Homo sapiens: one gene and its partners. The protein of the gene in region 7 purifies or fractionates together with the protein of the main gene of each other region. This does not show direct contact. Each region holds a gene or a part of one and is shown on either strand. Other genes may lie near its edges. The genes, in order: RBM28, DRG1, LMNB1, DDX27, DDX18, SMARCA5 and MTF1.

Region 1 (3,500 bases), on a different chromosome or scaffold from region 7:
CTTTCTACATAGCCACCACACCTGGGATAAGATGGAGTAAAAAAATAAAGAATTAGAACTATGTTTCCAGTTAGACTATCAGGAATCAAAACAGGCATTCTGGAATCATCTGCACCCTACCTGGAAGCTAGGACATCTCTACGGCAATAACTTCTTTTTTTTTTTTTTGAGACACAGTCTCGCTCTGTCGCCCAGGCTGGAGTGCAGTGGTGCCATCTCAGTTCACTGCAACCTCCGCCTCCAGGTTCAAGCGATTCTCCTGCCTCAGCCTCTTGAGTAGCTGGGATTACAAGCATGCACCACCACACCTGGCTAATTTTTGTATTTTCAGTAGAGACGGGGTTTCGCCATGTTGACCAGGCTGGTCTTGAACTCCTGACCTCAGGTGATCCACCTGCCTCCTCGGCCTCCCAAAGTGCTAGGATTACAGGTGTGAGCCACCGCACCTGGCCGGCAATAACTTCTTTAGGCACAGTACTTGATAAGTCAATATATAAATCACAGTCAGTTTAATAAATAGCCCACAGATGCTGAACAGTGATATAACCAAGGAGGAATCTAGATACCAACCTGCATCTATCAGCAATTATCTCAGGGACATTTTTCACTAGGGATTTAAAAGGACACTCTCACCAGATAAAAGAAAGAATACTGGCAAGGGTTCTTTCAAGTTTAACCCCAAGATCAAGTTCTAGAGTATTTCACCTAAATAGCTACCGTATTAGCAATGAGACTCTTAATAATGCAAACATCTTTTGAAAATGCAGAAAGTGGGTTACTACACTAATTCACCAAAACACCAGAAATATCTGGGTCAATGATATGGGTATAGAAAGCTTACCTTTTATCTCTTTCATGTTCATGCCTTTGAGAGCTTTACCTGCTTCTAGGAGGTTTTTGAACTGAACAAAACCAAAACCGCGCATCTTCCCATCTGTGTGCAAATGCACAAAGAAAGAAGTGAGAGGCAGCAGGAGGTAGCCAGAATACTAAGAAGTAAATTACTGCAATTCAGGCCCACAAGATGGCCCAAATTCTGCCAGCAGGTCAGGCCCTTCCCCAAAGCAATTGCTTACATCTTCTTACTGAGTATACTCTGACTTGGACTTGGGGAGAGCAAAACACTTTCTCAAACTAACTCGCCTTCTAAAACTAATTCTGATCCAACAGAAAATATCATCAGGGGAATAAAACCATTATTTGGGTTTTCATTAGATGTGAAGCACTGTGCCAAATACTTCATATATATCATATATGTTTGTTCAAGGGTAATATGTTAACTAACGTAATCCACACCAAGTGAAGGTTTATTAGTACCTGGTTTCCTAGGGATATTTACTTCCAGGACAGCTCCAAATTGAGCAAATACTGTCTTCAAGTCATCTTCTGAACACTGAAGCCAAAAGTGAAGAAAGAAAAAGAGAAACACAATCACAGCAAATTAACATAAAACATCAACTACTAAATTCATTAATTATGAAAAACATGAATGTTTACTTTTTTTTATTTTTGATACTAGGACATCAAATGTTTCTAAATAGAAGACATTTTACTTTGTACCTAAGAGGCAAAAACACAGACGTCTGAGAACTTTTTCTACCTTTTCTTTCTCAGTAGTAGTTTCCCCAAAAAGGAAAGCAGCTTCACACTTAGTGCCCTTATTACACAGGCCCACTTTCTGAATTCAACAGGGGTAAGGTTGATTCCCAGAAGGAATTAAGCCCAATTATACCATCTTGGTGAGGAGTTCTACTAATGATCACATCTTGGCTCTAAAAGCCTTCAAAACATGCAATGTTCATTTTCTCTCTCACTTACCTTAAAGCTCAGGTTCCGAATAATTAATCTGGCTTTCTTATCTGCCACTTTGGCTTTTTTAGCCTTCGGCTCCTTCTTTGGGCACTCTGAGTTTTCTAAAAAATAAGAGGTAATGGAATAAGTACTCGAAAATCACCCACTTCTACGCCAGAACATCACAGAAAAAAAAGCTACTGGCGACAGATGGCATTTACCACAGGGTTAAGTGTGGCAATAATACCAAGGAATACCAGATTTTTCCAAAGAACTAAAATGAGTATCACAATACACTGGATGATTTTGGAGATCAAAAAGAAATGCAAAAAGCTTTAAGTTCTAGAAGCTACCTCCATGCCTCCCTCTTTCATTTTCATAGTGCTCCTCCTCACCCTGGGAGAAAAACTTCCTTCAATTACTAGAAACTCACCATTTTTCCCCTTTTCCTTTGTCTTGTTCCTCAGTTTTTTCTTGGCAACAGTCACGTTGATCTTGCAACCTTCAAAGGTGGTAATCTCCTTGAGGGCCCTCTGAACATCTTCCAGCATTGAAAAAGTGACATAGCCAAAGCCTCGACATGCCTTACTCCCTGGAATAATGGAGTGGGGAGGGAGTGGAGGGGCAGTGTGAAAAGGAGAGAGAATCATAAGCCAAGAGCACTAAATGAGTAAATCCTCAAAGCCTAAGCTAGAGGATATACTGCCAACCCATCTTGCTATCAGTTTGCCAAAAGTCTCAGGAGGGCGAGAAACAAGGGTGGTATCAGTGGTTCCCTCCCCACTTTGCTTAGAAACTGTTAGCCTTCCTCCTCTTTTAATTTAGTGTCTTTGCTGTTAGCTCCCCTTCTTCCCCCTTTCTTGATAATCCCAAGAAAACAGAGAATCCATGACATATGAGGCCCTCAAAGAACTCAACATCAAAAAGAACAAAACATCACCAAAGAAGGCAGGAAAGGTAAGTATATGCTATGGTTTGAATGTGTCCCCCAAATTTCATGTGTTGGAAACTTAATCCCCAATGTAGCAGTATTGAAAGGTGGAGTCTTTAAGAGGTGACTGGATCAGAGGACTCTGTCTTCAGGAATGGATTAATCAATTTATGGATTAATGGGTTAATAGATTAATGGGCTATCATGAGAGTGGAGCTGGGGGCTTTATAAGAAGAGGAAGAGAGACCTGAGCAAGCACATTAGCATGCTCAGCCCCCTCGCCATGACACCCTGCACTGTCTGGGCATTTTGCAGAGTCCCCACCAACAAGAAGGCTCTCACCAGATACAGCCACTAAACTTTGGACTTCTCAGCCTCCAGAACTTAAGAAATAAATTTTTCTTTACAAAGTACCTAGTTTCAGGTATTCTCTTATAAGCAACAGAAAATGAATTAAGACAGTATGGTAGCTTCAAAAATCAGAACACAATAATGCAGTTACTCCTCAAAATAGATCAGCAATAAATGCCTGAGGCCCAGACAAAAGAACCTCAAACAATAAATACTGCTCAGAGAGACTGCAGATGTTATGACCACTATTACCAACGCCTTAGCTGTCGATATCAAATTAAACCTTTCCAAAGCAGCTGTGCATTCTTGTCTCATTTTATCTTTAGAACACCTCAAAATAGGTAAAGCAAATATTATCACCCCTTCTTTCCAAGTAAGTAATTTGAGATGGAAGACAGTAAGTGAATTGGTTAATGTCACACAGGGT
Region 2 (3,500 bases), on a different chromosome or scaffold from region 7:
GAAGATTTATACCAGAAGTCAATTTGCTTTGTATGCCATGAAATCAGCACCTATTTGCCCAAGAGTTGACACATTTTCTGTTGCCCAGGCTGGAGTGCAGTGGCACAATCTTGGCTTACTGCAACCTCTGCCTCCCGGGTTCAAGCGATTCTCCTCCCTCAGCCACCCCAGTAGCTGGGACTACAGGCACATGCCACCATGCCTGGCTAATTGTATTTTAGTAGAGACGAGGTTTCCTCACCATGTTGCCTGGGCTGGTCTCGAACTCCTGAGCTCAGGCAATCCGCCCACCTCAGCCTCCCAAAGTGCTAGGATTACAGGCATGAGCCACTGCGCCCACCCTTGGTTAGCAAATTTTTAACCAAATTTATTGAGGTACAATTTTTTTTTAATTGTATCCATGTTAAAGCACACAGTTCAATAACAAATGTATATACCTGTGTAACCACCAAACCAATCAAGACATGGAATATTTCCATCACCTACAGCATTCCTTTGTGCCTCCTTTCAATCTTCCCCACTATTGCCAGCCAACCACTGATCTGCTTTCTGCCACCATAGTTTGCACGTTTTAGAATTTCATATAAATGGAATCATATAAAATATATTATTTTGGCCTAGCACAGTGGCTCATGCCTGTAATCCTAGCACTTTGGGAGGTTGAGGCAGAAGGATTGCTTGGAGCCAGGAGTTTGAGACCAGCCTGTGCAACAAAGTAAGATTCAATCTGTATAAAAAAAAAAAAAAGTAGTCTTTTGTGCCTGCATATCTTATTTTTATTAATATATATTTATATTGACAGAGACAGAGTCTCGCTCTATTGCCTAGACTGGAGTGCAGTGGCATGATCATAGCTCACTGTAGCCTTTAACTCCTGGCCTCAAGCAATCCTCCTGCCTTGGTCTCCCAAACTGCCGAGACTGCAGGCATGAGTCACAGTATCTGGCCTTTTTCTATATTAAAATTCATTTGTCAAAAATCCTGCTTCCAGCTGGGCACGGGAGCTCATACCTATAATCCCAGCACTTTGGGAGGCTGAAGCGAGAAGATCACCTGAGGTCAGGAGCTTGAGACCAGCCTGGTCAACATGGTGAAACCCTGTCTCTGCTAAAAATAGAAAAACTGGCCGGCGCAGTGGCTCACGCCTGTAATCCCAGCAGTTCGGGACGCTGAGGCAGGAGGATCACAAGGTGAGCTGATTGAGACCATCCCGGCCAACATGGTAAAACCCCATCTCTACTAAAAATTCAAAAAATTAGCCGGATGTGGTGGCACATGCCTGTAGTCCCAGCTACTTGGGAGGCTGAGGCAGGAGAATCTCTTAAACCCGGGAGGCAGAGATTGCAGTGAGCTGAGATTGCGCCACTGCACTCCAGCCTGGGCAACAGAGCGAGAATCCATCTACAAAAATAAATAAATAAATAAATAATTAGCTGGCCATGGTAGTGGACACCTGTAATCCCAGCTACTCAGGAGGCTGAGGCACGAGAATCACTTGAACCAGGGAGGCAGAGGTTGCAGTGAGCCGAGATCATGCCACTGCACTCCAGCCAGCCTGGGCAACAGAGCGCCATCTCAGAAAAAAAAAAATATTCTGCTTCCATCAACTTTCTAGTTCCTCATTTTTTAAAATTCTCTTTTTTGAAGAGACAGGGTCTCGCTTTGTCACTCAGGCTGGAGTGCAGTCGCATGATCATAGCTCATTATAACCTCCACCTCCTGGGCTCAACTGATCATCCTGCCTCAGTCTCCTTGAATATCCGGGACTACACATGTGTGCCATGTCACATGGCTATTTTTTTCTTTTTTTTAATTTTTATTTTTGTAGAGACAGGGTCTTGCAATGTTGCCCAGGTTGGTCTCGAACTCCTGGCCTCAAGTGATCCTCCTGCCTCAGCCTCCCAAAGTGCTGGGATTACAGGTATGAGCCATTGCACCTGACCCTGACCCCTCATTCTTTTTTTGAGATGCAGTAGAGACAGCATTTCACCATGTTGTTCAGGCTGGTCTTGAACTCCTGACCTCATGATCTGCCCACCTCGGCCTCCCAAAGTGTTGGGATTACAGGCGTGAGCCACCATGCCCAGCCTCAGTGGTAGACTTTTTTTTTTTTTTTGAGATGGAGTTTCACTCTTGTTGCCCAGGCTGGAGTGCATTGGTGCGACCTCAGCTCACAACCTCTGCCTCCTGGGTTCAAGCAATTCTCCTGACTCAGCCTCCCAAGTAGCTGGGATTACAGGCATGGACCACCACTCCTAGCTAATTTTGCATTTTTAATAGAGACAGGGTTTCTCCATGTTAGTCAGGCTGGTCTCAAACTTTCAACCTCAGGTGATCCGCTCGCCTCAGCCTCCTAAAGTGCTGGGATTACATGCATGTACCACCATGCCCAGCCTGATTTTATTTTATTTATTTTATTTTTTTGAGATGGAGTCTTGCTCTGTCATGCAGGCTGGAGTGCAATGGCGTGATCTCGGCTCACTGCAACCTCCGCCTCCTGGGTTCAAGCTATTCTCCTGCCTCAGCCTCCCAAGTAGCTGGGACTACAGGCATGCATCACCATGCCCAGCTACTTTTTGTATTTTTAGTACAGACAGGGTTTCACCATGATAGCCAGACTGGTCTCAAACTCCTGATCTCAAGTGATCCACCCCCCTCAGCCTCCCAGAGTGCTGCAATTACAGGCATGAGCCACCAAGCAGCCATGATTTTATTTTTATTATTATTATTTTTTGACACAGAGTCTTGCTCTGTCGCCAGGCTGGAGTGCAGTGGTGCAATCTCGGCTCACTGCAACCTCTGCCTCCCAGGTTTAAGCGATTCTCCTGCCTCAGCCTCCCGAGCAGCTTGGGACTACAGGCGCGCACCACCACACCCAGCTAATTTTTGTATTTTTAGCAGAGACGGGGTTTCACCACCTTGGCCAGGTTGGTCTCGATCTCCTGACCTGGTGATCCACCCGCCTCGGCCTCCCAAAGTGCTGGAATTACAGGTGTGAGCCACCATGCCCGGCCTTATTATTATTATTATTTTTTTTTTTGAGACAGGGTGTCTGTGTGCTGCCCAGGCTGCAGTGCAGTGGCATGATCATGGCTCACTGCAGATTGACCTCCTGGGCTCAAGAGAACCTCCTACCTCAGCCTCCCGAACAGCTGGGACTACAGAAGCATACCACCACATCCAGCTATTTTTTTTTTTTTTTTTGAGACAGAATCTTGCTGTCACCAGGGTGGAGTGCAATGGTGCAATTTCCGCTCACTACAACCTCTGCCGCCTGGATTCAAGCGATTCTCCTGCCTCAGCCTTCTGAGTAGCTGGGACTATAGGCACACGCCACCATGCCCAGCTAATTTTTATATTTTTAATAGACACGCGGTTTCACCATGTTGGCCAGGATGGTCTCGATCTCTTCATCTTGTGATGCACCTGCTTCAGCCTCCCAAAGTGCTGGAATTACAGACTATGGAATTACAGGTACCTGCCACCATGCCTGGCTAATT
Region 3 (3,500 bases), on a different chromosome or scaffold from region 7:
TGTGGTTTTGGTAAAAGTCAAGTCTGGCTCCCTTACAAAGCCTTTACTTCCAAAAGTATAAATTAAATAAAGAACTTAAAAAGATAAGAACACTGGGTGGGTGTGGTGGCTTACGCCTGTAATCCCAACACTTTGGGAGGCCGGGGCAGGTGGATCACCTGAGGTCAGGAGTTTGAGACCAGCCTGACTAACATGGCGAAACCCCGTCTCTACTAAAAATACAAAAAAAATTAGCAGGTTGTAGTGGTGGGCGCCTGTAATCCCAGCTACTTGGGAGGCTGAGGCAGGACAATCGCTTGAACCCCGGAGGCAGAGGTTGCAGTGAGCCAAGATCACGCCATTGCACTCCAACCTGGGCAACAGAGCGAGACTCTGTCTCAAAAAAAAAAAAAAAAAGATATAAACACTGACTGACAAAATAAACCTAAGAGTGGGTAAAAGTACGTTTTAGCAGACTGCTGAGGAATATTCAGAAACCAAGGCAAAGGGACTCTGGTTACTATGTGGAAGGCACTACCTAGTGTCCCTTTAGGATTGCTGGGCTATCTCATGTTCAGTTAGCACACAAAGGACACACAATATAGGGTGATTTGTAAAGTATTACTGTGAATATAGAAGCTGTATATTTGGCATAAAAAAATTAAAAATCACACATCCTACACCAGAAAGTTCATCTTAGAAACCTTGTGGCTCGCTGGGTAATTATTCTTCTGTGTTTCTCCATGACAGAATTCATCTCAGTAGCCTCAGAAAGTGACAACTCAAAAAGACTGATGGATAGCTTAGGCCCTCAGAATCACAAGTACCTGCAACAGAGCAGGAGAGAAAGGGCATCTAATGTGCAAAAACTAAATCTAGAAGGCTAGAGATAAAAAGGAGCTACCAAATACATAAAAACTGTACTCTTGCTGGTAAATTTACTTTTCACAGCAGTACAGGTTCAAAATTTTGAAACTGCTTTAACATATACTGGGGCTGAACAGATAAGTAAATGGATGATAAAAACCAGGTTTCTCACTCTGAGAGAGAAAAGATACAGGTATGTCAGAAAGGAAGCCAAAATTGAATGCTGTCCTACTAGATTCAAGTCAGAGACATCTGTATGAATTCATGTTTATCTTAACACAAATGATTAGACAGAAAAAGTTATAAATATGTGCATACACATGGGTTAGCATACATAAAATGTTACCCACTTTTATCGGTGAGAGGGCCAAGAAGCAGTGATACCCAGTACCAGTGAGCACACTCAGTGCCCAGATCTTAATTTCTATATACCATTCTCCAATAACAAGAACCAGGGCTCCTTGGAGACTGGATAATTCTAGGACTGGGGCAGGGAAAATGCAAGATGAGCCTAGAGCATGTTATAGTACCAGAAAGCAACAAAGTGCTCAAAAAACAATGGGACATAGTGGCCAAGCTGACAGAACTCCCAGTGGCCAAATATGAAACAATTTAAGCCAAAAAAGTAAATACTGCAGTATTAGCTTACAACCCAAAGTATAAAGTAAATGCCCATGGTCCATACGGACACAAACAAACAAACAAACAAACCAAACAAACGGGGAATGGATAAATCGTTACAGAAGAATGCCATTTAATAAATGTAGATTTCCCTCCAGAATGTGGCGCTTAAGTCCTGCCCTGTCCTTCACCCTTGAGGGTAGGCTGGACTTAGTGAGCTGTTTTCCATGAACAGTGTATGGGAACGGAAAAATAGTAGCGCTGTTGACAGTGGAGAAACCTGACAAACACTATCTTAAACCAAACACCACCAGTGATGTCATGTGGTTATCACATACGTGCAATCCCTGATACGATGTGACAAAACGGGCACTTAAAACCCAAAACCCCAGTCTAATCACGTGAAAAGCACCGGACAAATCCAAATTGGGGGACAGTCTACAGGATACCTGGACAATCTTACTCAAGACTCAAGCTCATAAAAAACAAGGAAAGCCCAAGAAACTGTCACAGACCAGGGGAGGCATGTGGCACCTGGAACAGAAAGAAGATAACAGAAGAACTGGTGAAATCCAAATAGTCTGGAGACGAGTTCACAGTAATATACCAATGTCAGTTTCTTAGTTTTGACAAATATACTATGGTAACATAAGATGCTAACAACAGGGGAAAATGGGTGAGAGGAAAACAAGAACTGTCTATAGTACTTTGCCAACTTTTCTGTAAATCTAAAATTATGCCAAAATAACAAGGTTATTTAAAAAATAATCAAGAGTCACTGTAAACCTATTTGGGGGCAGAGGGGGTGCCTGGTTCACACGCACACACAAAAATATATTTTTAAAGAAAAAAAATTGACCAATCAATTAATTAAATTCCAGAGTAGTATATGACTTGACATGCTATTTAGACAGGCACTCCTCTTAAGATGGATATTACAAAGGTAGTCCCTGAACCTCAGAGAACTTGCATTTAACTGCGTTTGCAAAAATCATGCTATAAATGGAGAAATCCATTTCCCCGCTACCATGTTCCTTGTATTTTCTTTTTCTCCAAAAGAAAAAAAAAAAGTCATGTAAGTTCAAAATGCCTCCCTTTATTTCATATATCAGAGGTAGAAGATATATTTGAATGGGCAAAAAGGTAGAATCTAAAGGAGAGTTGATGAGAGATATAAACTACCCAAGATTCACAGATAACCTGAGCCGAGATTTATAAACCCAATGATGTCTCTGTTTGACTGCCTTTGATGTTGTAGAGCTCTTTAAGAGGGAAAAATCAAAATCTAGGTATAAAAATTTTAAAGTTACTCTGAATCATTCTGTATTTTAAATAGAAATATTTAAATTCTATTTTCAGTAGCTGCACTTACACCTGTGTAGTGAAATATAAGGAACACAGTATGAGAAGTTAGACCTAGATTCTCCTTTCTAATTCTGCCATTGAAACTACCTATGAGGCTATAAGCAAGCTGTAACTAATCTCACTAAACCAGTTTCCACATAAGGAAAATGAAGAGCTCTAACTATCTAGATGATCTCTCAGATCTTGCCACTAACCCTAAATTTTATGACTTCTGATGATCTTGGGGTTTTTAAATATTTTATAGTATGTAATGTAATTGTACTGGTTTATTAAGGTCTAGCTGCAACCAAAGTCTCCAGAATCTGGGTGTTAGAAAAACAAAAGTTAGAGGTGTTTTTAAGTACCATACTGTACTCTTCTCTAAGGCAAGCAGACTCTAACCAACCAATTCATTTGGTCCCAAGTCAAAAATCTAGAGATGCTATAAGCAATGTAAAATTTCTAATTCCAAAACATAACACTGCTACCATCTATATATTATTTAAATATATCTTGTAAAACCAGTATTTTAAAGCCATGTCAATTTTAAGTAAAATTTAAGAAGTACTTCACTAACCTGAGTTATTTAACCAAAAGGAAATTCTTATGGCCTAATAGGCAGCATGATGAAACTGATATGACTCAGCAACAAACACTATTAAGACAAACAATAGGAAAATATTCAAAAA
Region 4 (3,500 bases), on a different chromosome or scaffold from region 7:
ACGAGTGCCAGGAGGTGTCGTCAGAGAGGGCCAGAAGGGGCAGAGCCTTGTAGGTCAATATAAGGACTCAGGCTTCTAAGAAGAGTGAGACTGGGAAGTACTGAAGGACTCAGAGAAGAAGAGGAGGGACACGATGGAACTCATTGCTTAAGAGAGTTCTCGGCCGGGCGCGGTGGCTCACGCCTGTAGTCCCAGCACTTTGGGAGGCTGAGGCGGGCGGATCACGAGGTCAGGAGATCGAGACCATCCTGGCTAACACGGTGAAACCCCATCTCTACTAAAAATACAAAAAATTAGCAGGGCGTGGCAGCGTGTGCCTGTAGTCCCAGCTGCTGGGGAGGCTGAGGCAGGAGAATGGCGTGAACCCGGGAGGTGGAGGTTGCAGTGAGCCGAGATTGTGCCACTGCACTCCAGCCTGGGCGACAGAGTGAGACTCCGTCTCAAAAAAAAAAAAAAAAAAAAGGGAGTTCTCTGGCAACTGTATGGACAAGAGTTGAGGGAGGCAAAGAGAGAAGCAGAAAGTCCAGTTAGGGGTGGCTGCAATAATCCCATGGTTGCCAAAATAAGCCACTACTGGCCAGGCACAGTGGCTCAAATCCCAGCACTCTGGGAGGTTGAGGCAAGAGGATTGCTTGATGCCAGGAATTTGAGACCATCTTGGACAACATAGCAAGACCATGCTTCTACAAAGAAAATTTTTGACAAGAAGCTGCTACCTTCAGAAGAGGGCGGGAAAGGTTCATGTCCTGGAACGAGAGGTTTTCATCGTACTGAGATGCATCTTCAAAAAATCCTCCTGCTTCCTACACCAGAAAACCAAAAGAGAGAAGAGAATTCAACAAAAAGAGCCAAGAAACCCAAACGACCTTAAACTCCTTTCGGTTTGCCAACAAGCTGCATACTGTCTTGCAGCCCCAAGCTCACCTGTCCTTTCTTCTTCTTCTTCTTCCGATCCTTTACTTTGAGTGTATCTATGGAGAAAAACTTAGCTGATGACCACGGCTCAGACTTACAAAGCACTTGCATCCTGCTGGACACTGTCCTAAGTGCCAATGCCACACTTCAGCCTCTGAGGGGTGACCATCGTCAACCTTGTTTCACAGATGAGGACACTTTGTGGCAGCATGGTGAAGTAACTTGCCTAAGGTCAGAGAGAAAGCTAACCCAGTGACTCTGGTCCAGAGACCAGGCTCTCGACCACTACACTGTATTATGATGCTTTAGCACACATTTCTGCAAGAAATACTTATTGAGGGCGGAAGCAGTGGCTCCCGCCTAAAATCCCAGCACTTTAGGAGGCCGAGGCAGGTGGATCACCTGAGGTCAGGAGTTCGGGACCAGCCTGTCCAACATGGTGAAACCCCATCTCTACTAAAAATACAAAAATTAGCCAGGTGTGTTGGCGTGTGCCTGTAGTCCCAGCTACTTGGGAGGCTGAGACAGGAGAGTTGCTTGCACCCGGGAGGCAGAGGTTGCAGTGAGCTGAAATTGTACCACTTGCACTCCAGCCTGAGTGACAGAGTAAGACTCCATCTCAAAAAAAAAAAAAGAAAGAAAGAAATACTTATTGAGCACCCACTATGTGGCTGGACCCATCTGAGTATGTCACCCCAAATGAGTTTGTATCACAGTGGCATCTGGCAGCCGCATGGGGCTAGATGGGAAAAGAGTAAACTACCTATGAAGTACAACAACCCAAACAAAATCCCAAGAGAAAAGAAAACCTAAAAGAAAGGATTCAGCGGGCACAGTGGCTCACGCCTGTAATGCCAGCACTTTTAGAGGTCAAGGCGGGAGGACTGCTCGAGCCTAGAAATTTGAGACTAGCCTGAGCAACAAAGCAAGACCCCGTCCCTACAAAAAAAAAAAATTAGCCAGGCGCAGGGGCATGCACCTGTAGGCCCAGCTACTTAGGAAGCTAAAGCAGGAGGATCACTTAAGCCAGTGAGTTCAAGCCTTCCAGTGAGGTATGATTGCACTACTGCACTCCAGCCTGTGGATGGAGTGAGACCACATCTCTTTTGTTTTGTTTTTTGAGACAGGGTCTCATTCTGTGGCCCAGGGTTAAGTTCAGTGGGACAATCTCAGCTCACTGCAACCTCTGCCTCCCAGTTTCAAGTGATTCTCGTACCTCAGCCACCTGAGTGGCTGGGATTACAGGTGCATGCCACTACACCAAGCTTATTTTTGTATTTTCAGTAGAGATGGGGTTTTACCATGTTGCCCAGGCTGGTCTCAAACTCCTGGCTTCAAGCGATACACCCACCTCAGCCTCCCAAAGTACTGGGATTACAGGCATGAGCCACTGCACCCAGCCAACATCTCTTAAAAAAAAAAAAAAAAGAAAGAAAGGAGTTCAATGTAGTAGGCAGAACAGCTTAAAGATAAACTGTGCAGAAGAGTGGAGGAAACCCTACAAAGTAAAGGAGGATGCCTTCTGATCTCCTGTCCCCATTACTGACACCTCCGCCGTAACGTCTACCTGCTTTGGTGAGGATGTTCTCATCAGCTGATGAGTAGTCAGTCTCCGAGGCTTCATCTTCTGAGCCTTCCTCATCATTCTCTTGAAGGTCTTCCTGCTCCTTTGGTTCAGAGCCTTCCTTTGCTTCTTTCTCCTTTTCCAACTTCCCAGACTTGGCTTCTTTATCCTGGGAAAAAAATTAAAGTGAGGGTGATGAGAAACTTCTAGAAATCCAGAACCTAAGTAGAGCGATAGGAAGCTCTCCGGCCTGAATGAACGGCTGTGGGGATTCTCAGTACAGATTCACAGCAAACACACAGAAGAGTGCGCCTGCCCCAGCCATGCCCCGCTCTATAAGGGCTTCCAGAGAGATGCTGGGGTCGTGGTGAGAGTAAAGAGTGGGCCCTAACAACGAAAAATAGCCACTTTTCTTCTCACCTCTGTTTTCCTTTTCTTTCGAACTTTCTCAATCTTCTCATCTAATGTAGTGGCTGCCCTCTGCAGATAAAAATAAAGAGGTGAAAAAGAAATTTTCATTGAAACATCGAATAAGAGAACAAACTCTTCATAATTAACTTGAAAAAGAAAAAATTTTGGCCTTCTCTGAAAATACATATACATATTATATATATAAAAATTTTAGGCCGGGCGCGGTGGCTCACGCCTGTAATCCCAGCACTTTGGGAGGCCGAGGTGGGTAGATCACCTGAGGTCAGGAGTTCGAGACCAGCCTCAACATGGAGAAACCCTGTCTCTACTAAAAAAATACAAAATTAGCCGGGTGTGGTGGTGCATGCCTGTAATCCCAGCTACTCGGGAGGCTGAGGCAAGAGAATTGCTTGAACCTGGGAGGCGGAGGTGGCAGTGAGCCGAGATCACGCCATTGCACTCCAGCCTGGGCAACAAGAGCAAAACTCCGTCTCAAAAAAAAAAATTTTTTTAATCCTCTCCAGACGATCTTGAAAATGCAGTGCTGGTAAGGCTGAGCACAGTGGCTCATGCCTGTAATCCCAGCTACTCAAGAGGCTGAGGCAGGAGA
Region 5 (3,500 bases), on a different chromosome or scaffold from region 7:
TTTTTTCTCAGAAAGAAGCTAACATTAATGTGTGCTGGGCACCGTCTGACAGCTTGGCTCTAACTCCAAGTAAGTTGCCCTTGTCTTCTAAGTACTCTACAGAGTGCAAAGGCTTACCAAATCCAAACCACCTTGAATTAAACAAATCTTAATGAGGAGCATCATCGTTCTTTGTATGAAAGTCTTTGTTATGTTACCAAATGAAGAAATGCAGTACATTACACCTCTATTGATGTAAATGAGGCTCAAACATCTCAATTCCATCCTCTTCCTACCCCCCAGCCATCAAACGTTATAACTGCTTAGTGACACTTTATTCAAATTACAACCCATAGTTTTTGCTCCAAAAAATGCAACACCTGAGAAAGGCCTGTTGCTTTAAAATCAAGAATCTATAAAAGCAATGCCACCCTAATCTTAAGGTGCTTCTTAGGTATTTCCCAAAGCTCTTTGCTCTTTTATACTGCAGCATTTTCAGGAGGAGTCATTAGATACTGTCAAGGTCCAAGAAATAACTAAAAACAAAAAATAACCTGAGACTCTTTTCTGCACCGCCACCAGCTGCCCAGTACACTAGGTCACCTTTTACAGCAGTGAGCACAGCAATCCATGCCACAAAAATCTTCGCAAAACAAGAAGGAAAGGTACAAAAAGAATTATATTAAAATGGTAACATACACTTGTATGAGGGAGGGATATTTAAAATTAAAATATTATCATCACAAGAAACACCAGATATTCCTTGCTCTGCCCTTGGGCAACCAAGAAACTTAAAGCCTGTTTTATATCCCAGAAATAAAAGAGAGACGTGATAGAAGTAACAGTGCTCAGTGCTTGCAACCCAAGTCAATTTATACTCTTGTTAGGTAAGTCCAAATTCTAAAGTCTACAAAAATCCTGTTAAATCAAGGGGAAAAAAAATTCATTTTAGGACAAAGTTATTCAAGATGAAAGGAAGGCATGTGTTCAGTGAGAGAACTGCCTGCTGTCAGATGATTTCTTGCTAATGTGTTTAAAGATTTTGGATTTCTCAACTTTCTTGGTTTTCTGGTAGCCAAATCCACCACCACCTCCTCGCTTTTTCTGCTTGCCTTCATTACTGTTGACGTCTGGAGGCAAACATTAAGGAAATCAAGCAAAAAAGATAATGAACTCCAATCTAACATCTACACAGAGAAAAAAACCGGCATGAACACTACTGTTCCTCCACAACCCCATTCTCAACAATGAAAATGTGGGAACATAAGCCTATGCAATAAATTTCCAGAAAATTAGGAGTGGCCACGTGACTGTGGACTTAAATTAGCAGGTATGATTTTAAACTTCGGTGTGTAATAGTCATATTAATTATTTCTTCCACACGATGAAATTCATGACAGTGAATAAGGATTTATGAGTTTAATCAGGAAGTTGGTAGGAGCACATTAAAAAAACACCTCCTGTGTCAAAACAAATGACTATCATTTCTCTTCGGAATTGATTTAGGAATGCCTAAGTGAAGGAGCTGCTCTTCCTTCCACAGGACTCGACATACATTCATTTCAGCTGACATTTACTCAATGCTGACAATGGGGATGGTGACCCAAAATTTGGTCCTCTAGTTCCCTCAGAAGTTACCCCTATGGCACTGAAGCACAGGCCTCATTTCAGCTGCTCAGTTTCTTCTTCTGAAAGGCACAAATTATAAATCACAACTGAAGCAACTGGAAGTACTCCTGCCTTTTATCTTAAGCAACACCTAAGTTTTATTTTCTTTTGCTGAACTTGCCACTTTCTTGCATAAAATCCTTCAGGGGTTCTAAGATGATTAAAACTCCTTGAAAGGTCCCATCCTCTCTTTAGCTTCAAAACACCCCATTCACCTAAGTACCCTGCACAGTGCAGCCTCAGCAAACACTGAAGTTTTGATTTTTTTAACCTGTGTTTCTGCCTGGAACACACAACTGTCTCTGTCTCTCCTTGACAGTCAAATTTCTTTGTCTTTTGAAGGCTCAAGGCATAAGCTGCCTTGTCCCTGTAACCCCATCCTAATGATTAAGCCCTGCTTACCCCATCCAACCTCTATGTCCTGTGCTAGCACAGAAAAGCAGACATCGACCAGGGTGAACACTGGAGCCTCCAGTCTGAGCCAGAACACATACCAATCCACTGCAAAGCCCCAAATGCCCCTCTGTCAAGCTTTTGTTCCTTAGTCACAGGATAACTTCATTAAAGAAAAGGATACTCAGATCAACGAAGGGAGGCACCTTGAAACCAAATGACAGAGCAACCTGAGGCAAATTTAGGTTATTAACATTAAAGATCTGTTTCAGAGAATGGGAATCATAGGCTCGTATGTATGACTTATATGCTTCCTGGGCTGACTTATGAAGAAAGTAATTCTTTTCAATCAATTTCTCAAGCTGAAATAGAAAGAAACACTGGTTTTAATAAACAAAAACAAACAAAAACCTCCAAAACACCAGATTTTAAATATCCTAGAGCAAAGCCACTCCATGGAAAACATTTAAAGAGGGCACAGAGTGGTGATAACTAGAATAGCAAGAAACCTTATACACTACACAGCCTGATCCTCACTTTAGGACAGGGTAGACTTCAAAGGACAGTGATTGCCCAGTGAATCACTACAAACAGAGTGCTGGGACAAGGTTCCTGTTTACTCACAAACGTTTAAAAAGCACATACCTGAGACTGAATGTCAGAAATTTTAGACCAGGAAAAGTCAAATTCACTTAATGGAACCTAGAAATCAAAAGTATTAAGATTAGTAAACCAGGATGATCAGCATTCCGATACTGGGTACTGAAGACAGGGAAGGATGAACCGGCCTATGAAATTCCCTCAGGACAGAAAGGAAAATCTGCTTTTTCTAGTCTCCCAATGTTGATGGGAAAGTTACATCTTTGCTCTGCTGAGTTAGGCAATCTGCACTTCTTTCTTTCTGAAAGGCAAGGAACTGGATAGGGACACAGTCAGTAAAGCACTTTTCTGTAAGAATCTCTATAATCCTGACTATTTGCAACCATGAATCAGCTTGAAGCTTCTAGTCAGAAGGGCCATCAGCCCCTTTTCTCCATGTCAGAAGAGGGGCCCTAATACCCCCACAGTCCTGTATTGAGGCTTGTGACACTGGAGGCCATGATGACCACAAACTCCTACAGGATGGATCTGCCATCAGTTATCACTCATTAGATAACTAGAAAAGCAACAGGCCTGTGCCAGGTGCTAGAGAGAAAATAGGTACCTAACTCATGGACTCTGCCCTCAGAGAGCTTGCCGTCTTGAGGGGGAGAAAGATAAGTAATGAAATGTCAACCTGTAGATTCTGGATATTAGCCCTTTGTCAGATAGGTAGATTGCAAAAATTTTCTCCCATTCTGTAGGTTGCCTGTTCACTCTGATGGTAGTTTCTTTTGCTGTGCAGAAGCTCTTTAATTAGATCCCATTTGTCAATTTTGGCTAGGACTAATATCCAGAATCTACTAAGAACTTAAACAAAT
Region 6 (3,500 bases), on a different chromosome or scaffold from region 7:
ACATCTTGTAGATGCGTGCTCTTGGCTTTTGTTTCATTATCTATAAATTAAGAAATGTAATTATGTAAAATATGCATTCACATATGTATCTTGTTCAGCACTTTAAAAACAGTCTGTAATCTTGGAAAACATAAATAACAGAGGCTTGTCATCTGTAGGACATTACTGGGGTTCTAGCATGTTCACAGTCTTGTTACTGTGCAGATTCATTTGCTGCTATGACTGCCATTTGTGACCCAATGAAACACTATAACCATGTGCCTTCCTAATAGCAAATTGGGCTTCAGTTTTTACATTGGTGTGACCTTAAAAAATGATTATGTTCCTTTTAAAAATACGTAGTTGTTACAACATTATGGCATTTGGATACTTCTTGTGTTTGCTAGGTAAAATGTCTTTTTGTAATTTATTCCCAAACTGACATTTTAAACATTTATAGACAGAGATGTTGAGTAGTTGGTTTCCCTGTTTATTGAGCTTTTCTTGTCTTGCTTCTCCTTTGTTTCATCAAACTATTATTGTTTTTGTATAAAGGCTGCCTAATGGCTCCCAATTTCATTATTTTTATGAAAATTTGTCTTCGAGGCTCTTAAGGTTTTTTTTGCCCAAGTAAATTTTTTCCATTCTCTCGGTATTATAATAGGGAACATTCAAAGGGGCAGATGGCAGATACGAAAGGAAGGAATAGTATCAATCCCAATACCGTTTTAAAATTTGTCACAGCCTAACTAATGAATGAGCACTGCATTTTTTCCAGCTTCTGAGTAAATTCACTTGTATTGCACAGTGTTTAATATTTTAAAAATTGTTCCGATCAACTGTATTGAAGTATAATTGACATAAAATAATTTTAAGTTTGTAATTCAATGAGTTTTAGCAAATATTTCTTTAAATACCATCACAATCATGATGCAGAGTAGTTCCATCATCCCCAAAGTTTGCTCCTGCTCCTTTCTAATCAGTTCTTGCTCCCACCTCCTTGCCACTTCTGATCTGCTTTCTATCACTAGTTAGCATTTCATTTAAGTGGAATCATACAGCATGTAGTCTTTTGTGTTTGGCTTCTTTCACTTTGCATAGTGCTTTTGAAACTCATCCATGTTGCATTTATCTGTAGTTCTCTTTTTTTTTTTGCTGAGTTCATTGTATGGAGGCATGCTGAAACTTTGATTTCTGAAGTTTTAATTGATACTCTGATAAAATGTATCTTAAATTTTTTTTTTTCAGCAAACTGACCGGGCAAATAGATTCGAGTATTTATTAAAGCAGACAGAACTTTTTGCACATTTCATTCAACCTGCTGCTCAGAAGACTCCAACTTCACCTTTGAAGATGAAACCAGGGCGCCCACGAATAAAAAAAGATGAGAAGCAGAACTTACTATCCGTTGGCGAGTGAGTAATAGTTTAAACTTCATAGTTCAACCAAACTTATTTTCGATAGTCTTCAGTGGAAGCATAAAATCACTATGATAAATAACTTAAAATTATTTTAGTGCCATTATTTATTTGGCCCTGTTTGGCTTGGCATGATTTAGCCATAAATGTATAAGTATATAAAAATACGCATAATGGTTAGAGCACAGTGGCTCTTGCCTGTAATCGCAGCATTTTGGGACGCCAAGGTGGGAGGATTGCTTGAGTCCGGGAGTATGAGAGCAGCCTGGGCAACGTAGGGAGATCCCATCTCTACAAAAAAAAAAAAAAAAAAAAAAAAGAATAAAACTGCATAACGCCTTATTTTTTGTAGCATTATATAGTTTATGAATTGTAACAATCATGTTGAGTATGGAATTTAGATGTCACGTCATTCCTCAGAGAGGAAACAAATGCAGAGGTTAAGTGGCTTGTTTAACATCACATTGAAGAATGATCCAGACTTGAATTTGAATCTGACTTGGGTGTGCTCTAGGCTCCTCCATCACATACAGATGTTGACAGTATTTTATCTAAAGTGTGGTGTGTGGGATATTGTGATGACTTACATCACGGCAGCCTGTTTAAAATTTTTATTGCATACTTAGTTGTTTTTATATAAATTGAAGTGTCACGTTGTATGCCGTCCTTTGGTGGTGGTTGAAAATAATTCTTACATGTTGAATTTGGAAATTCTCTAGAATTTTCATTCTGGTTGGATAAATAAGATGTTTAATTAGTAATAGTAGATTTAGGGCAGTCTTGGCTCCCTGAAATGGCTTTGTGTAATTCCCAAAGTGAAAACTGTGATTAGTAATTAAAATACAAAAGATTGTTTAAAAGAAGAAGTATCAACAAGGTTAAATTCACTACACAGTTTGTTGAAAGAGGGAAGTATGATCTTCATCTTGAAGGGGTTATCGTTGTAAGCATAATACCTTTTATTTGGGGTATTCCACTCATTCATTATATCTTATTTCTCATCCATTGTGACCAAAGCACTATTTTAATACTTACGAAACTTTGAAGGGACAATTTTGCCCTTCAGCTGTATTTAAAATATTTCAGACTTCAGAAGTTTGCATTAGTGTCATGGCATGAAACTGGAAACTACTGTACTGAATATTGTTATGGGATAGTCAGTATGATGTCTCGAAAAGAAACACTTCTTTTATTCTTTTCTATTTTATTATTATCCTAATTTATCTTTTTTATAAGATAAAAAAGATTCTATTGGAAATAGTAATAATAAATTGTTAGGCTTAATGTATTAAATAGTGTTATTAGGGAAAAAAGTCCTAGTTAACAGATTTCTTTACTCCTCAAACCATCTTAAATGGGAAGCTAATTTACCTAAAGTAATGAGGGTCATAGTATTGTCTTTGGGTATCAGGAATACATTTTTTTAAATCTTTTTTTGTTTGTTTGTTTTTATTGAGACAGAGTCTTGCTCTGTGGCCCAGGCTGGAGTGCGTGCAGTGGTGTGATCTCGGTTCACTGCAAGTTGTGCCTCTGGGGTTCAAGCGATTCTTGGACCTCAGCTGGGATTACAGGCTCACGCCACCACGCCCAGCTCATTTTTGTATTTTTGGTAGAGATGGGGTTTCACCATGTTGGCCAGGCTAGTCTCGAACTTCTGACCTCAAGTGATCCACCCACCTCTGCCTCCTAAAGTGTTGGGATTACAGGCGTGAGCCACTGTGCCTGGCCAGGAATACGTTTTTTTTTTAAGTCATTCACGATTATATTCAATTTTTAACAATAAATGACATCTCAGCTTTTAAGTTTTACAACTGTAATAATCAAACATTTTGAGAGTAACTATAAAGGATATTTTATAAAAAGAATTTAAAATTATCTCCCAGTTTATGGAGAATAAATAGGGGATGGAAGTAGATCTTTGTACTCAATTTCATAGGCTCAGAATGCAGAGAAGTACAAGGAATAACAGACTAGGATGTACTGATTATGATTAGAAGCATATATAACAAACAAGAAGGCCCTTGAATTTCTGAGGAATGCTTCTATCTTGGAAGGCCGCTTATCCTTTTAGCAAGCATGTGGTTTTGGTAGAAATGAAGTTAC
Region 7 (3,500 bases):
GAGGGAAAAGAAATACGTGAAGCAAGGGAGGTGGGTTGTGGCATACTGGAGAGAATGCATGCCAGTCACCTCAAGGGCTTCAGCCGAATGCTGCCATGGGAATATGCAGGCCAGGGATTACCAGAACTCAAGTGGCAAAATTTTGACTTTCTTTTTTTTGAGACAGGGTTTCTTTACTCTGTTGCCCAGGCTGGAGTGCAGTGGTATGATCATAGCTCCCCGCAGCCTTCAACTCCCGGGCTCAAGTGATCCTCCCACCTCAGCCTCCAAGTAGCTGGGACCACAGGTATGGGCCACCACATCTGGATGATTTTTTAATTTTTCTGTAGAGATAGGGTTTTACTATGTTGTCCAGGCTGGTCTGGAACTCCTGGGCTCAAGAGATCCTCCCACCCCAGCCTCCCAAAGTGCTGGGATTATAGGTGTGAGCCACCACATCAGACCCAGAAATTTTGATTTTTACATGAAATCTACCAACTTGTAAATAAAAGCAAGTACAGCTGACCCTTGAACAACATGCATTTGAACTGCACAAGTGGACTTATACTTGGGACTTTTTTCCACTTCTGCCACCCCTGACACAGCAAAACCAACCCCTCCTCTTCCTCTTCCTCCGCCTACTCAATGTGAAGACGATGAGGATGAATCACCTTTACAATGATCTACTTCCCCTTAATAAATAGTAAATTTATTTCCTCTTCCTTGTGATTTTCTTAACATTTTTTTTTTTCTAGCTTACTTTAAGAATACAATACATAATACATATAACATTCAAAATATCTGCTAATCTAAACTGTTTATGTTATCAGTAAGGCTTCCAATCACAGTAGGCTAAGGCCATTGCTAGCTCAGTTTTGGGGGAGTCAAAAGTTATACTAGGATTTGGTTGTGCAGGGGGTTATGGGTTGGGAGGCCAGCACCCCTAGCCCCTGTGTTGTTCAAGGGTCACATGTAATTGAAAATAACTTAAACACACTGTATATACCAAACTAAAACCTCTTTTTAGGGCAGATCTTGCCCTAGTGCCAACATACGTTTTAAGGTCATTTTGTAACAACTCTGCTTCTAGAAGGCAGAACTCAGAAGGATCACTTTGGGATTGGGTAGAAGTGTGGTGATGAGTGGGGCTGTCCACCAATCTAGAAGTGCTCAAAGATTAAATTGCCCACTGGAGCCAAAAGGGAGCAATTCTTCTTTTCCCCCCCTTTTTTTCAGACGGGGTCTAGCTCTGTTATCCAGGCGGGAGTGCAGAGGCGCAGTCAAGTCACTGCAACCTTGAACTCCTAGGTTCAAGATCCTCCCCTAGACCTCCCAAGTAGCTGGGACTACAGGCGCACGCCACCATGCCTGGCTGCTTTTTAAAAATTATTTTTAGTAGAGATAAGGTCCTGCTACGTTGCCTAGCCTGGTCTTGAACTCCTGGCCTCAAGCAGTCTTCCCAAAGCACTGGGATTACAAGTATGAGCCACCACCACCAGCTGATGATTCTCTTCTACGTCTATCAGCTGAAGGAGGGGAAATTCAGTGATTCCTTTTTTTTTTTTTCTTCATTTCAGTGATCCTGATTGCCAATATGATAGAAGGTGAAGTCAGAAATTATGTGAGGCCAGGCGCAGTGGCTCACACCTGTAATCCCAGCACTGTGTGGGGCCGAGGCAGGCAGATCGCTTGAGGTCAAGAGTTCGAAACCAGCCTGGCCAACACAGTGAAACCCCGTCTCTACCAAAAGTACAAAAATTAGCTGAGCATGGTGGTGCGTGCTTCAAATCCTAGCTACTCGGGACGCTGAGGCAGGAGAATTACTTGAACCTGGGAAGTGGAGGTTGCAGCGAGCTGAGATCAAGCCACTGCACTCCAGCCTGGGTGATGGAGCAAGACTCCATCTCAAATCTATGTGGGACAACTTCCAACTTCCAGTCCGGACAGAGTTAAAACTCATAGGCCAATAGTGTGACTTTCAAATTTTCATTGTGACACAAAGTAAGAAATACATTTTACACTGTATATACATACATTCTTCATATTATATACATATCCATATGTGTAACTGAAACAAGTCTATGAAACAGACCTTATCCTTACTATGTGCAATGTCCTCTGATTTTTTTTCTATTCTATTGATGTCTTTGAAATGCTGATTATAAACCACTATTTTAAAACCCAATGAAAAGGTGCAATCCAGTTTGAAAAATAGTTGACTAACAACTACCACTGAGCATAAGCTTTGCAACCTCCTCATAGTTGTTATTATTATTATTATTATTATTATTATTATTATTATTTGAGACAGAGTCTCGCTCTGTTGCCCAGGCTGGAGTGCAGTGACATGATCTTGACTCACTGCAAGCTCCACCTCCCAGGTTCACGCCATTCTCCTGCCTCAGCCTCCCAAGTAGCTGGGACTACAGGCGCCTGCCATCATGCCCGGCTAATTTTGTTTTTTGTATTTTTAGTAGAGATGGGGTTTCACCGTGTTAGCCAAAATGGTCTTGATCTTCTGACTTCGTGATCCACCCGCCTCGGCCTCCCAAAGTGCTGGGATTACAGGCGTGATCCACCCTCCTCGGCCTCCCAAAGTGCTGGGATTACAGGTGTGAGCCACCACGACCAGCCATAGTTATTACTTTTGTTCTGTTTATAAATCATTATAGGTAGTAACATAATTAAAAACGAATGAGCTATATTTGTCAATGATATTAGGTTGGTGCAAAAGTATTTGCGGTTTTTGCCATTACTTTCAATGGCAATTACTTTTGACCAACCTAATACCTCAATAATACTAGGGAAAAGAAAAGGAATGGGCTTGTGTGCCTCCAAAACATATGTACAAAAATGTTCACAGCAGCACTATTCATAATGGCTCCAAACTGGAAACTATCCAAAGGCCCAACAGGAGAAAGAACAAATATTGGTATATTCATTTAGTGTATTGTGGTATATTCACTTAGTGTAATATTGTTCAACAAGAAGAATGAATGACCTGTAACTGTATGTAATAATATGGCTTAATTTCTTAAACATAATGTTATGAGAAGAAAAGCCACACATAAACAAGTATATGATTCCAATCATAAAAGCATTAAAAAAAAAAAAACAGGAAAAACTAATCTTAGTTGTTGTAAGTCAGAATAGTGGTTGTCTGCAGGGAGAGATCATGGCTTTTGGGGGTATGTGAGGGGGGGGCCTCTGGGGTGCTGGGAATGTTATTTTGTTTGTTTTCTTTTGTTCTGAGACAGAGTTTCGCTCTTGTCACCCAGACTGGAGTGCAATGGCACGATTTCAGCTCACTGCAACCTCTGCCGCCACGGTTCAAGTGATTCTCCTGCCTCAGCTTCCCGAGTAGCTAGGATTACAGGCGCCCGCCACCACACCCGGCTAATTTTTGTATTTTTAGTAGAGACGGAGTTTAGCCATGCTGGCCAGGCTGGTCTCAAACTCCTGACCTCAGGTGATCCGCCTACCTCAGCCTCCCAAAGTGTTGGGATTATAGGCGTAAGCCA

The links.
Region 1: the proteins of MTF1 (region 7) and RBM28 purify together in Homo sapiens (affinity purification with mass spectrometry, with the first as the bait; one large-scale study listed by BioGRID). This does not show direct contact.
Region 2: the proteins of MTF1 (region 7) and DRG1 purify together in Homo sapiens (affinity purification with mass spectrometry, with the first as the bait; one large-scale study listed by BioGRID). This does not show direct contact.
Region 3: the proteins of MTF1 (region 7) and LMNB1 purify together in Homo sapiens (affinity purification with mass spectrometry, with the first as the bait; one large-scale study listed by BioGRID). This does not show direct contact.
Region 4: the proteins of MTF1 (region 7) and DDX27 purify together in Homo sapiens (affinity purification with mass spectrometry, with the first as the bait; one large-scale study listed by BioGRID). This does not show direct contact.
Region 5: the proteins of MTF1 (region 7) and DDX18 purify together in Homo sapiens (affinity purification with mass spectrometry, with the first as the bait; one large-scale study listed by BioGRID). This does not show direct contact.
Region 6: the proteins of MTF1 (region 7) and SMARCA5 purify together in Homo sapiens (affinity purification with mass spectrometry, with the first as the bait; one large-scale study listed by BioGRID). This does not show direct contact.

Annotation. Positions count from the first base shown.
Region 1 is NC_000007.14:128,337,409-128,340,908, forward strand, and holds part of RBM28 (RNA-binding protein 28), read right to left. Parts: intron 2,384-3,500; coding exon 2,225-2,383; intron 1,914-2,224; coding exon 1,819-1,913; intron 1,394-1,818; coding exon 1,318-1,393; intron 935-1,317; coding exon 842-934; intron 1-841. UniProt on the Homo sapiens protein: Nucleolar component of the spliceosomal ribonucleoprotein complexes.
Region 2 is NC_000022.11:31,416,604-31,420,103, reverse strand, and holds part of DRG1 (developmentally-regulated GTP-binding protein 1), read right to left. Parts: intron 1-3,500. UniProt on the Homo sapiens protein: Catalyzes the conversion of GTP to GDP through hydrolysis of the gamma-phosphate bond in GTP. Appears to have an intrinsic GTPase activity that is stimulated by ZC3H15/DFRP1 binding likely by increasing the affinity for the potassium ions.
Region 3 is NC_000005.10:126,815,136-126,818,635, reverse strand, and holds part of LMNB1 (lamin-B1), read right to left. Parts: intron 3,467-3,500; exon of another isoform or gene 3,389-3,466; intron 2,002-3,388; exon of another isoform or gene 1-2,001. UniProt on the Homo sapiens protein: Lamins are intermediate filament proteins that assemble into a filamentous meshwork, and which constitute the major components of the nuclear lamina, a fibrous layer on the nucleoplasmic side of the inner nuclear membrane.
Region 4 is NC_000020.11:49,222,416-49,225,915, reverse strand, and holds part of DDX27 (probable ATP-dependent RNA helicase DDX27), read right to left. Parts: intron 2,960-3,500; coding exon 2,900-2,959; intron 2,649-2,899; coding exon 2,483-2,648; intron 972-2,482; coding exon 925-971; intron 804-924; coding exon 717-803; intron 1-716. UniProt on the Homo sapiens protein: Probable ATP-dependent RNA helicase. Component of the nucleolar ribosomal RNA (rRNA) processing machinery that regulates 3' end formation of ribosomal 47S rRNA.
Region 5 is NC_000002.12:117,828,191-117,831,690, reverse strand, and holds part of DDX18 (ATP-dependent RNA helicase DDX18), read right to left. Parts: intron 2,743-3,500; coding exon 2,686-2,742; intron 2,403-2,685; coding exon 2,225-2,402; intron 1,110-2,224; coding exon 967-1,109; 3' UTR 1-966. UniProt on the Homo sapiens protein: ATP-dependent RNA helicase that plays a role in the regulation of R-loop homeostasis in both endogenous R-loop-prone regions and at sites of DNA damage.
Region 6 is NC_000004.12:143,520,202-143,523,701, forward strand, and holds part of SMARCA5 (SWI/SNF-related matrix-associated actin-dependent regulator of chromatin subfamily A member 5), read left to right. Parts: intron 1-1,227; coding exon 1,228-1,394; intron 1,395-3,500. UniProt on the Homo sapiens protein: ATPase that possesses intrinsic ATP-dependent nucleosome-remodeling activity.
Region 7 is NC_000001.11:37,825,093-37,828,592, forward strand, and holds part of MTF1 (metal regulatory transcription factor 1), read right to left. Parts: intron 1-3,500. UniProt on the Homo sapiens protein: Zinc-dependent transcriptional regulator of cellular adaption to conditions of exposure to heavy metals. Binds to metal responsive elements (MRE) in promoters and activates the transcription of metallothionein genes like metallothionein-2/MT2A.